Regions from separate parts of the Homo sapiens genome. Here regions 2 and 3 are each linked to region 1. The links come from fine-mapping of genetic effects on plasma protein levels. Region 1 holds a variant in brackets. A gene starts in each other region. All regions are shown on their forward strands.

Evidence for each region. PIP is the posterior inclusion probability: the model's chance that the variant is causal. The UK Biobank Pharma Proteomics Project read protein levels with antibody pairs (Olink). The fine-mapping took linkage between variants from a reference panel, not from the people measured, so its PIPs are less certain.
Region 2: TXNRD1 starts here. The variant in region 1 is fine-mapped to the plasma level of the TXNRD1 protein (UK Biobank, PIP above 0.99).
Region 3: it holds the start of PI16, and the variant in region 1 is fine-mapped to the plasma level of the PI16 protein (UK Biobank, PIP above 0.99).

Annotation. Positions count from the first base shown.
Region 1 is chr19:54,246,036-54,250,262 of GRCh38, forward strand. LILRB5 (leukocyte immunoglobulin like receptor B5) reads right to left here. Exons shown (of 13, transcript NM_001081442.3): 13 at 3,386-4,227. LOC107987463 (a long non-coding RNA gene) reads right to left here and starts at 1,911. Exons shown (of 3, transcript XR_007067341.1): 1 at 1,183-1,911; 2 at 66-245. The variant C/G (reference allele first, on the strand shown) is at 2,323.
Region 2 is chr12:104,213,799-104,218,023 of GRCh38, forward strand. TXNRD1 (thioredoxin reductase 1) reads left to right here and starts at 1,981. Exons shown (of 17, transcript NM_001093771.3): 1 at 1,981-2,095. The coding sequence starts at 2,005. RefSeq lists enhancers at 1,757-2,373, 2,374-2,989 and a silencer at 1,844-1,933.
Region 3 is chr6:36,952,567-36,956,793 of GRCh38, forward strand. PI16 (peptidase inhibitor 16) reads left to right here and starts at 2,172. Exons shown (of 7, transcript NM_153370.3): 1 at 2,172-2,365. The coding sequence starts at 2,195.

The DNA of each region.
Region 1 (4,227 bases):
GTTACTAGTGAAACTGCAGGGTCCCCATCTGCACCCCAGGTGCACCCCCTCTTCCTCTTACTCACTGAGGTTTTCTTCTTGGATGTCAGCAGCTGGGCTGGACCTGGGGGAGGACACGAGAGTGTGGTGTGGTGGAGTGTGGGAGTCTGGGGTCTTTGGGCAGAATTACCTCCTCAGCAGACCCCTGTTCTTGGGCTCTGGTCCCACGGCCCCTGCAGGGTGTTGGAAATCAGCCTCTCTCTGGGCTAGGTGAAGAAGGACAAAGTCTCAGCCCTGGGAACCTTAGAACCACCCACCCAGTACATGCGACTTTAGGGGAAAAAATGAAACTTGAAAACACACCCATATATATATATATATATATATATATTTTTTTTTTTTTTTGAGACAAGGTCTCGCTCTGTCGCCCAGGCTGGAGCACAGTGGTGCGATCCCAGCTCACTGCAGCCTTGACCTCATAGGGTCAAGTGATCCTCCTGCCTCAGCGTCTTGAGTAGCTGGGACCACGGGTGCACACCACCAAACCTGGCTTATTTGCATTTTTAATTTTTTTTGTAGAGATGGGGTCTCACCACATTGCCCAGAGTCCTCTGAAACTCCTGGGCTCAAGCCATCCACCTGCCTCAGCCTTCCAAAGTACTGCGATTACAGGCATAGTTGTTTTAAATACTGGATACACTTAAAAAGGCCCGAAGACGTTGGGCCGAATGGCTCATGCCTATAATCCCAGCACTTTGGAAGGCTGAGGCGGGTGGATTGCTTGAACTCAGGAGTTTGAGACCAGCCTCGGCAACATAGTGAGACCCCCCATCTCTCCCCCGCAAAAAAATAATTAGCCTGGCGTGGTGATAGGGGCCTGTAGTCCCAGCTACTCAGGAGGCTGAGGTAGGAGGATCATTGAGGATCTTGGGAGGTGGAGGTTGCAGCGAGCCGAGATCACACCACTGCACTCCAGCCTGGGTGACAGAGCCAGATCACGTCTCAAATAAAATAAAATAAAAAGCTCAAAGAATAAATTACTTGCACATACACTCATATTTATTCTCTTCTTTCTAGATTTTTCAGCTGGGACTTTCTGGAGCTGTTTTTCTAAGCTGACTTTCTTGTGTGTTTGGTTCCCCTTTGGTTGGTGCCCTGATCCCACCCTCGGTGGGCCCACAGGTTCCCCCAGTCCCTGCTCACCCAATGTCCTGTGTTTGCTCTGACGCCGACATTGGAGGAGGAGGACGAGCGGCAGGACAAAGGCCACTGAGACCCCGGTTACAACCCCCAGGTATCTTCCCAGACCTTGCGCGTGATGACGTCGGGAATGAGGATGACATCGCTGATGTGAGCACCTACTGTGTGCAGGCGCGTGCTGGGTCTTCATGAGCTCTAACCCTCACAGCAGTCGTGCAACGTGGGATTGCCAACCCCCCAACCCATTTCACAGATGCACAAACTGAGGCTCAGAGGGGGGAATCGCCTGCCCCAGGCCCCCCAGCCTGGAAGAAGCAGGTCTGGGAGGGGAACCTGGGACCTTGTGTTTTCCCCAGCTGTCCTCCTGCTGCCCCACCAGGTGGACACCTGCTTCCTGCTCTGGGTCTTCTCATCTGACAGCAGGGGCCTGTCTTAGTGTCTCCATCTGGGGCTGTGTCCTCCTTACAACCCTCCCTTCCCCAGCACAGCAGGGCCTGGGGGAGGGAGTGGGCTGTACAGGACGGACCCTGCATTGCTCTCACCCCCAGCCCAGCCAGGTCCATCTCCTACTCTGCCAATCCCTGACCTTCCCATGCAGAGCCTTTGACCACAGACTGAAGGGCTGCACTGTCGGCTTCTCGGCTTCTGAGGTTTTGGTACTCGGACTAGCTTCCTTGCTCCTCAGCTTACAGACAGTCTATTGTGGGACCTCACCTTGTGATCGTGTGGATCAATACTCCTTAATAAACTCCCCTTTATATATACATCTATCCTGTTAGTTCTGCCCCTCTAGAGAACCCTGACTAATACATGTTTCTGAAATACGCAGCCATAGAAGGAAATGAGAAATGAAACTTCCTGACACAGGCAGGAAACCTCAGGAAGCAGCGAGGTCAGAGCTGAGTTGGCTTCTGGTGACTTGCAATGTCAGGGAATCACTAAAAGGGAGGTTTCCGCCTCTATATGAGACAGAGGAGAACCCCAGGGCCCTCACAGTCAGGGAGGGGTTGGGGTTTTGGGTGAAAGTGGGAAGTTGTGGCTCCTCGTCCCCTGTGTTTGTGGATGGCACTGGGGTATCTCTGCTCATTGACTCAGGTTTATGGTCAGCCCTGAGCCTCCCCCTCTGTGTGTGTGAAATAGATT[C/G]ATTGTAGAGTTGTCAGACATGAGGTTCACACTGGACCCTCCCCTGCTGGTTACAGGCCTGAGCAGACTCACAAGACCCGGGCAGGTGGTGCCGTCCTCCTCTTTTCAAGCCTAACGCCCAGTGCAGCCCTGGTAGAAACCCTCTCTGGCAGATGAGGCACTGGGAGATGAGTGTCCAAGAATGAGAAGAAAGAGGAATCATCCTAATGATAAAAAGTGCTATGACTGGCTGCCTGCGATGGCTCACGCCTATTTTCCCAGCGCTCTGGGAGGCCGAGGTGGGCAGATCGCTGGAGCCCAGGAGTTCGAGACCAGCCTGGGCAACATGGTGAAACCCCATCTCTACTAAAAAGACAAAAATGAACTGGGTGTGGTGGTGCACACCTGTAGTTCCAGCTACTTAGGAGCCTGAGGTCGAAGATCGCTTGAGTCTGGCAGGCGGAGGTTGCAGTGAACTGGGGTGGTGCGCCACTGCACTTTAGCCTGGGTGACAGAGCAAGAACCTGTCTCAAAAACAAACACAGGCTGGGCGTGGTGGCTCACGCCTGTAATCCCAGCACTTTGGGAGGCCGAGGCAGGCAGATCATGAGGTCAAGAGATCGAGACCATCCTGGCCACACGGTGAAACCCCATCTCTACTAAAAATACAAAAAAAAAAAAAAAAAAAGATTAGCTGGTTGTGGTGGCGGGCACCTGTAGTCCCAGCTACTCGGGAGGCTAAGGTAGGAGAGTTGCTTGAACTCAGGAGACAGAGGTTGCAGTGAGCTGAGATCACGCCACTGCACTCTAGCCTGGGTGACAGAGTGAGACTCCGTCTCAAAAAATAAATAAATAAATAAATAAAAACAAAAAACAAACCAAAAAATCAAACACAAAGTGCTATGGTTGACAATCCACACTCACTAATGAGGATTATCATGGTCAAAAGGAGTACTAGGAATGTGTGAGACCCATCTTAGGTTAAACATGTTTAAATATTTGAGAAATACAGAGGACATTGAATTTCTGAGGCAGGATTATATGATTTTTTTTTCTACAGCAGAATGAATATTATATAAAATAATTAGAAGACATAGAAAAATCAGATTTAATGAACACAATCAAAATACTCATTCCTTCGAGGACAAGACACAGTGAAGCACCAATTATGAAATTAGAAAACAAAACAGAATTTTTTTTAGAGTGTAGCATAGAAACTTTATAAATTGCAATTTAAAGTACTTGGGAGAATAGAATGAGGAGGGGGAATGTCCTATCTATTGTAGGCGTCAGAAAGAAGGAAGAGAAAACGATGTCTAGCAATAGCCCAAGAGGTGAGTAGCTGAACATTTTATAGAGATGAGGAGAGACTAACTAAGGACTAGGGCGCATCCCTTTAAAATTGAAATGTATGGGCTGGACGTGGTGGCTCACGCCTGTAAGCCCAGCACTTTGGGAGGCTGAGGCGGGCGGATCACCTGAGGTCGGGAGTTTGAGACCAGCCTGACCAACATGGAGAAACCCTGTCTCTACTAAAAATACAAAAATTAGCCGGGCGTGGTGGCAGGTGCCTGTAGTCCCAGTTACTCGGGAGACTGAGGCAGGAGAATCGCTTGAACCCGGGAGGCAGAGGTTGCAGTGAGCCGAGATCACTCCACTGTACTCCAGCCTGGTGATAGAGCGAGACTCCGTCTCAAAAAACAAAACAAAACAAAACAAAAACCCTCACACAAAAACCAAGACAAATCCCCTTGACACAAGTTTATCTGTCTAACAAACCTGCACATGTATCCCTGAACTTAAAAGTGAAAAAAATAAAGGCAATATGTGTCAGATTTGTGGTGGTGTCTGCTGTTTCACCCCCATATGGAAATGTGTGCCTGAACCCCGCTTTTTTCCTTGCTTATTGTGGCTAGGATTTGTGAA
Region 2 (4,225 bases), not on the chromosome of region 1:
GGACGCCTGTAGTCCCAGCTACTAGGGAGGCTGAGGCAGAAGAATAGCGTGAACCCGGGAGGCGGAGCTTGCAGTGAGCCGAGATCGTGCCACTGCACTCCAGTCTGGGCAACAGAGCGAGACTCCATCTCCAAAAAAAAAAAAAAAAAAAGCCTTTGGTTCAGTTTTATTTGTTTTCTGTGTTTAAGCAAATAAACACCCAGTGTTTTCCAAGAGCATTTTGACTCTGGGCTGCTCTCCAGAGAAGCAGGATATAAGCTTGTCCACAAACCCAAATGAAAACAAAGGGCCCACACAATTGCCACGCATCTGGTGACCAGACAAGTTCACTAAATCTCAGCTGGGGTGGAAGTTCCTTGAGACCAGGGAATTTGAGTCACCTTGTAACCCTAAACAAAGCCAGGCATAAGTTGGATGCTTACCATATGTTAGTTAATTGAAAGAAGGAAAAACAGAGCACTGCACTGATAGAGAACAGTGACTGTGCACCTGATGTGCCGCAATGTGGTTTGGTGTTAAAAAAAATCACTCTCATTCATTACTAGTAGGAGTTCAAATGGGAACCACAGTTCCAAAAAAGCAATTTTGGCAACGTGTAATGACAGCCTTAAAACTATAAACACAAAGATGTTCCCTGCAGCCTTATTCATAATTTTTAAAAATAAAAAACAAACTAAACATCTAATAATAGGCTATGTAATCGTCCAGTAGCTCTAGTGGATGGACTATTACATTATTATAATTATTCAAATTAATATTTTCCCGCTTCTTCCCTGCTTTCCTTCAAGAGGTGGGGGAGGCCACCTGGCCCAAGCTGAAGGCCAAGATACAAGAAAAAAATGCAAAGGTTCTATTTTGGCAGCGTTTACATGGGCAGGGTGTCGTGGGGAGGCTGGCGGAGGGAGTGGGAGCAGGTGACAGAGAATATAGGGTAAGTTAGAAGGCTCTCAGTGCTGGTAAAAATAAAATAGAGTAAAGTAAAGGGTGGGGGTAGAGTTGAGGGGGGCGTGATCAGATTTCTGTTCAAATAGGATGGTCTTTTTGCTGTGAACTTAAGACTGCTCTAAGGCCAGGCGCAGTGGCTGACGCCTGTAATCCCAGCACTTTGGGAGGCCGAGGCGGGCGGATCACAAGGTCAGGAGATCGAGACCATCCTGCCTAACACGGTGAAACCCCGTCTCTACTAAAAATACAAAAAATTAGCTGGGCATGGTGGCACACGCCTGTAGTCCCAGCTACTCGGGAGGCTGAGGCAGGAGAATCGCTTGAACTTGGGAGGCAGAGGTTGCAGTGGGCTGAGATCGCGCCACTGCACTCCAGCCTGGGTGACAGAGTGAGACTCCGTCTCAAAAAAAAAAAAAAAAAAAGACTGCTCTAAAAAATAAAGTGTATTAAAAAGAAACTACGATGTTCAGTGTATGCTTCATCTACGGTCAAAGAGGCAAAGACTGAAGTGACAGTGGAAGCCAGGTGGTTATCTGGGAGGCTTACAAGACTATGTGATAGTATGGAAAATACTAGTATTAAGTGAAATGCTGGATGCAAAACTATGCATAGAGGGGAAAAACTGGAAAGAAATAGTAAACACAGCAAAAGTAGTTTGTGTGAAGGATAAATTTTTTAAAATTATTTTTTGTAGAAACAGGGTTTCTCTACATTGCCCAGGATGGTCTCAAACTCCTGGGCTCAAGCGATCAATCCTCCCACCTCGGCCTCCCAAAGTGCACAGGTGTAAGCCACCGCGCCCAGCCGAAGGATAAGGATTTTGGGTGGTGCGCTCTTTTCTCCTTTCCATTTCTGCATTTTCCAATTTACCTTTAGCGACCGTTCTTTCCTGTTAAAAAAAAAAAATTCACGACCTTGAAGAAGATACACGGGCTATGACTTCGCTGTTGTCACCGAGCGCCCCGCCCACCGCGTTCTCCGACCCGCGGCCGGCAGGGGGCTCGCGGCCTCCGCCAGGCGTCCTTCGGCTCCGTCAGTTCCCACAGGGCCTTGTGCGACATGGGCTGCGCCGAGGGCAAGGCAGTGGCGGCGGCCGCCCCAACGGAGCTGCAGACGAAAGGCAAGAACGGCGATGGCCGCCGTAGGTCAGGTACGACCGAGGGCGAAGGCCTGGTCCCCAGGTCGACGGGCCGAAGCGGGCCTTCCGGCCGGGGTTGGGGATAAAGTGCCCCGGAGCCCTGGCCTTGAAGCCCCTCACTGGAGTCAGTGACTGACCGCGCGCCACGCTGGAGACCCCAGAAACGCTCCCCCAGGTCACCCCGGGAGACGGAGGCCGGCGGCCGGCCGAGGGCTGCCCCGCCCGCTGGCTGTGAGAGAGGTGGGAGGTGGAAGGAGGAGCGGGCCCGCCGCGAGGACCTGCCCGGAAACCTGTCGGAAACCGAACCGAGATCTCGGCAGCGACCCGCCTGATTTCGCTCAGGGCCCGTTAGGGCGTCCTCTTCCTACAAGCACCGTGTTTCCAATGAAAGGTTACGGGGGAAGCGACCAAACCGACAGCCGAGTCCGGGGGTGCCCCTTCACCTCTCCAGAAGCCCCCGGCCCACTCCCAGCATCCTCCTCCATCGAGAATCTTGTCCGACACGCCTTCCCGGCCCCCTTTCTCCATCCCCTTGAATTTTGGGCACATTTCTCCCACCATCATCCCGCTTTATCCTTTCACTTGTTCTTCCAGAAGAGAAAGCTCCCAGTCTCTTCTCCATTGTCCGGATAATGCCAATAATGGCTAGTGGTTACTAAGCACTGACATGAGAGGGGCCTTTGGAAGCACTAGACATGGGTAATAATCTTGGTTCATGTTTCCAGCCATACTGAGAGATTTATCATAAACCCCATTATACAGATGAAGAAACTGAGAAGCAAAGAGGTTATAAAACTTACCCAAAGCACACAACTAGTAAGTGGAAGAGCTGGGATACCAGTTGAGGCCATCTGACTCAAAAGCCCTGGTCATAGTCATATGGCCGCCTCCACCTTTTTTATAGGCTTGAGAAAGTGAGGCTCCAAAAAGTGCCTTGCCCAATGGCTAGAATTATTAAATGCTGTAGGATCTGCCTCTTTCAAAGGCTTACAGTTTAGTTACAAGGCAGCATATGGTGAAGGGCTAAAAGGAGTGGTAAAAACAGCCAAGTGGGGATGGCAGCTCCCATAGATGAGGTAGGATTTGGTAGAGGTGTCTGAAGGGAGAACATTCTTGTTAGGGGAAGCAGCCGGTGAGACCATGCTAGAGATAGGGAGGCCTGTATATCCTGCTGGAGTTAAGGACTTGGATTAGGGGAAGGGAAGAATAAAGGAACAGGGTAGGAGCAAGGTCAGGCAAGGTCCAGGTCAGGCAGCTAATTTGTGGCCATTAGTACAATGAAGGAGTTTGAGCAGGTGCATCCCAAATTGACGTTTCATGTGCCATCCTCAGGATCTTCTTGATATCTATGTCCTTCCATTTATTTACTGTTTTTCTTTAGCTACATTCTTTTTGTGTGTGGTTAAAAAAAAAAAATTTACCATCTTAACAATTTTGTTTTTTTTTTTTTTTTAGTTTCGCTCTCGTTGCCCAGGCTGGGGTGCAATGGCGCCATCTTGGCTCACCTCAGCCTCCACCTCCCAGGTTGAAGCGATTCTCCTGCCTCAGCCTCCCAAGTAGCTGGGATTACAGGCATGCACCACCACGCCTGGCTAATTTTGTATTTTTAATAGAGACAGGTTTTCACCATGTTGGTCAGGCTGGTCTTGAACTCCTGACCTCAGGTGATCTGCCCACCTCAGCTCCCCAAAGTGCTGGGATTACAGGCATGAGCCACTGCACCCAGCTGACCCTAACCGTTTTTAAGTATACAGTTTTCAGCAGTATTAAGTATATTCACATTGTTGTGAAGCAGATCCCCTGAACTTTTTCATCTTGCAAATCTGAAACTCCATGCCAACTCGTTAACTTTTCATTTGCCGTTTCCCCCAGCCCCTGGTATCCATCATTCTACTTTCTGTTTCTGTGAAATTTGGCTACTTTAGATTGCTTATATAAGTTGGTATCATACAGTGTCTGTCTTTTTGTGACTGGCTTGTTTCACTTAGCATACTTGTCTTCGAGTTTCATCTGTATTGTAGCATGCGACAGGATTTCCTTACTTTTTAAGGCTGAATAATATTCCATTGTGTGTGTGTATATGTACATACACACACACATATATACACACACACACACACAAAATGGAATATATATACACAC
Region 3 (4,227 bases), not on the chromosome of region 1:
CTCGTTGAACGGTCTTGGTACCCTTGTCTAAAATCATTTGACCATATGTGTAAGAGTTTATTTCTGGGCTATTCTATTCCATTAGTCTAAATGTCTGTCTTTATACTAATACCACACTATTTTAATTATTGTAGATTTGTGGTTACATATTAAAATCAGAAACTGTAAGACTTCCAATTTTGTTCTTTTTCAAGATTGTTTTGACTATTTGGGGTCCTTTGAGATTCCATATAAATTTTAGGATGGATTTTTCTGTTTCTATAAAAATATTATGATTTGCATTTCAATAGGGATTGCATTGAATCTGTAGATTGCTTCAGGCAACATTGACACCTTAGCAATATCAAGTCTTCTAATCCATGAATATAGGATGACTTTCCATTTATTTGTGTCTTCTTTCACTTTGTTTGTCAACACTTGTGATTTTCAGCGTACAAGTCTTTTGCTTCCTTGGTTAAGTTTATTGCTAAGGGCCAGGCGCAGTGGCTCACACCTGTAATCCCAGCACTTTGGGAGACCGAGGCGGGCGGATCACGAGGTCAAGAGATCAAGACCATTTGGCCAACATGGTGAAACCCCATCTCTACTAAAAATACAAAAATTTGCCGGGCATGGTAGCAGCTATGGTGGGCAGCATGGTGGGCAAGTAGTCCCAGCTACTTGGGAGGCTGAGGCAGGAGAATCACTTGAACCCAGGAGGCAGAGGTTGCAGTGAGCCAAGATCATGCCACTGCACTCCAGCCTGGGTGACAGAGCGAGACTCCATCTCAAAAAAAAAAAAAAAGTTTATTGGTAAGAATTTTATTCTTTTTATTCTTTTTCATTGCTTTTATAAATGAAATTGTTTTCTTAATTTCCTTTTTGGATTTTTCATTATTAGTGTATAGAAACAACTAATTTCTATGTGTTAATTTTGTATCCTGCAACTTTGCTGACTTTATTAATTCTAATAAGTGTGTGTGTGTGTGTATGTGTGTGTAATCCATCTTGGTTTTGTTTTTATTTTTACTTGGAGACTCAGGCAGGGACAGGTTTTCTTGTCATCTTCCAAAGCCTGTGGGTAGACTTTTTCTAGGTCCCTATTCATTGAAGAAGCAGGCTTCAAGGATCCCAGCTGTCCTCAAGAGTACTGGTTCCAGCTTCCTGCTTCATGAACCGGTCATGGCCCCTGCAAGGTCAAGGTCATTATAATGCCAGCACCTGACTGCTAAGGCTATTTCCCTTCCAATACCTTCCCCTCAGAGCTCCTGGTGCATCAGCTCATTCAACCTTCTGCTTTTCTGCTCTCTCTTGATTTAAGAAACAGACACATTATATTTCTACATAGTTAGAGCACAGGGGTCCCAGCATCCCACTTCCAAATGAGCATGTCAAGCACATGCATTCAGAGAGGATACCTGGAAGCCAAAATTTTGCCATAGTGAAAGGCCTTATTCCTGAATACAGCTAGAGTGGGGAAGACCTTGGCCTCTCCCCCCGCAGGCAAGAATGTTGCCTCCACAGGGGGCTGGTAGCCTGCTAAGGCCCAGGCCACATGAGTGGGTTGTCTACTGTTACTGAGGGCCTACTATGTGCCAGACACCATACTAGGTGCTTTACATACATTATATGTCATTGAATCTTCCCTCTAGTCCTGTGAGATAGGTACTATTATTGTCACTGATTCACTTGAGAAAGCTGCCAAAACACAGATAGCAAGGGGCAGAACCAGGATTCTGATTTAGGTTGGCTCAGCCTTTTATCAAATACATCTGGTCTTCCTCTGTCCTTTCAAAAGCCTATAGCTTCCTCATCTTGCCCACTCCTCTGTGGGTAGGGTCTGTGGTTTCCTTTCTCTTATCTATCTTCAACACACAGTGGGTGTGACCTGGGTGCAACCAGTCACAGCTCTGCAGAGGTTACTGTGATTTTGCCCCTGAAGGATCTGTCCACAACTTAGGAACTCACACAGCTTTTGGCCTGAGCCCCCGTTACCAAGAGAAAGGAGGTTTTTGCCAAGGACTCCAAGGGGAGTGCACTTGATGCTGGTCGGGACCCAAAGCGCCCAGCCCTCCCTGAGACATTGTGTGAGTCGGGCTGGGCCTCAAACACGGCCCCCACTGCCCCACCCCAGCCAGGGTGGTGCTTGTGTGGGAAGGACTTTAAATCCAGCTGCCAGACCCCTGGACGGGAGAAGGAGAGACGGCTGGCCACCATGCACGGCTCCTGCAGTTTCCTGATGCTTCTGCTGCCGCTACTGCTACTGCTGGTGGCCACCACAGGCCCCGTTGGAGCCCTCACAGATGAGGAGAAACGTTTGATGGTGGAGCTGCACAACCTCTACCGGGCCCAGGTATCCCCGACGGCCTCAGACATGCTGCACATGGTAAGTGTGGCCACGGCCCTTGCTGGCTGGGATGGAAGGGGTGCTGGCCAGGGTCTGTCACCAGGCTCTCTTACCCTGCTCCTCATGCTGAAGCTATTTCAGAATTCCTCTCCTTTTTCTGGTCAGTGACAGAGTCCCCGAGTCCCTGACATGGTATTACATTACTTTAAATGGCAAAAACCACAATTACTTTTGCACCCGCCTAATAAAATTCACAGGCCCCTATAAGCAGCCTCATAATACAGATAAGGAAAGTGAGGCTCAGAGGGATTTGTTGGGGTCACACAGCTGGTAGAGCCAGACCCAAAGCCCTGGCTTCCCACTCCAATGAGCTTTCCCCAGCACTTCCTCAAATGCATGTGCCCTCAGTGGGGGAACCCGGGAAGTTCTTAACACCTTTGTGAAAACGGTCTTTCACATGCCTGCCAAGGAGAGGACAAGAGGAAGCAGGGCAGCAGGATGGGCGTGGGCACGTGGAGTAGGAGGCAGGTGCTAAGGAGGTGGGTGACAGCAGGATCCAGAAGCAGAGAGGGCTCTGGATCACACAGTCCAAATTCTGTCTCGGTCACCTACAAGACCTATGATTCGAGGCAAGTCCTGTAACCTTGCCGATCCCGTGTCTCATCTGTAAAAGGCGGTCAGAATTAGAGCTACGTATATACCAGTGTGGATTGAATCTCACAGATATCATACTGAATGGGGGAGGAAATAAAATCTCTAAAAAATACACAGTAGGATCTCTTTACATGAAGTCTGAAAACATGTAAAAATACTATTTATGTCCTGGTGAAACACGCAGATGTAGTAAACATTACATGTACATGCACACAGGAGACAGAAGCCAGATTTAGGGTTGGTTACTTCTGTCAGGAAGAGCTATTTATGGTAGGGTGAGAGGCGGGCTGTCTATATGCAGAATTAAAGGAGATAAAGTGAGAAATTCACCCACTTCCTGCCCTCCCTGAGGGCTGAACTAGCTTGTCCCCTCCAGCCACCCTCAGGTGACTGGGGAGGTTGCTGGGCAGTGTTCAGGGACCCCTGGAGCTGGTGCCTGAGAGAACAGATGCACCTTGGGGAACATAACAGTGAGCCTGGGGCCCCAAACCTAAGTTCTAACCTCAGCCTAATGTGATCTGGCTGAAGTAACTCTGGGTGGACCCCTTTCCCTTCAAAGGCCTCTGTTTCCAGATGGAAACATGGGGCTGGCGATCCCTGCCCTGGGCGTCAGACAGGATGACACGTAAGAAAGATCTAGGAAGAGCTCTGCACACACCCAGCACTGCCGTTCACAGCTGTGCCAGCCTGCACATCGAGGAAAGGTGGACAACAAACCAGGCGTCACAGATGCAGCTCTGCCAACAGCTCCCTGATTGAGGCCTGTGACTCATTGTTGGACTTCAGTTTCCCCACCTGTAGATCCCTGATGCCCTACAGTCTTGCTGGCTGAGACTGGGGGCCACACAGGCTGGGAGCTGCTTCTCAGACAGAGGTGCGCCTTGGAGTGGGGCAACATTCTGGGAGGCAGTTGGGATACTGAGGGGATATGCTGCTGCCTAATGGGGAGTGACATGAGGAGGAGGAGATGAGGCTGGGGCTGGGATGCCAGGAAACATTCAGGACAAGACTCAGGTTCAACCTCAGCAGTGGTGAGGGCAGGGACTCTGCAGCCAAATGGCCTGGGTTCAAATCTTAGCTTTGTTACTTATTAGCTTTGTGACCTTGGCCAAATTAAACTCTCTGTGCCTCAGTCTCCTCATCTGTAAAATGGGGATGATAACAGTGGGATAATTCCCTTGTAGCTACAGTGGTTGTAGGGTTAAGTGAGTGAATATGTGTAAAGCACTCAGAAGAATGCCTGGCAC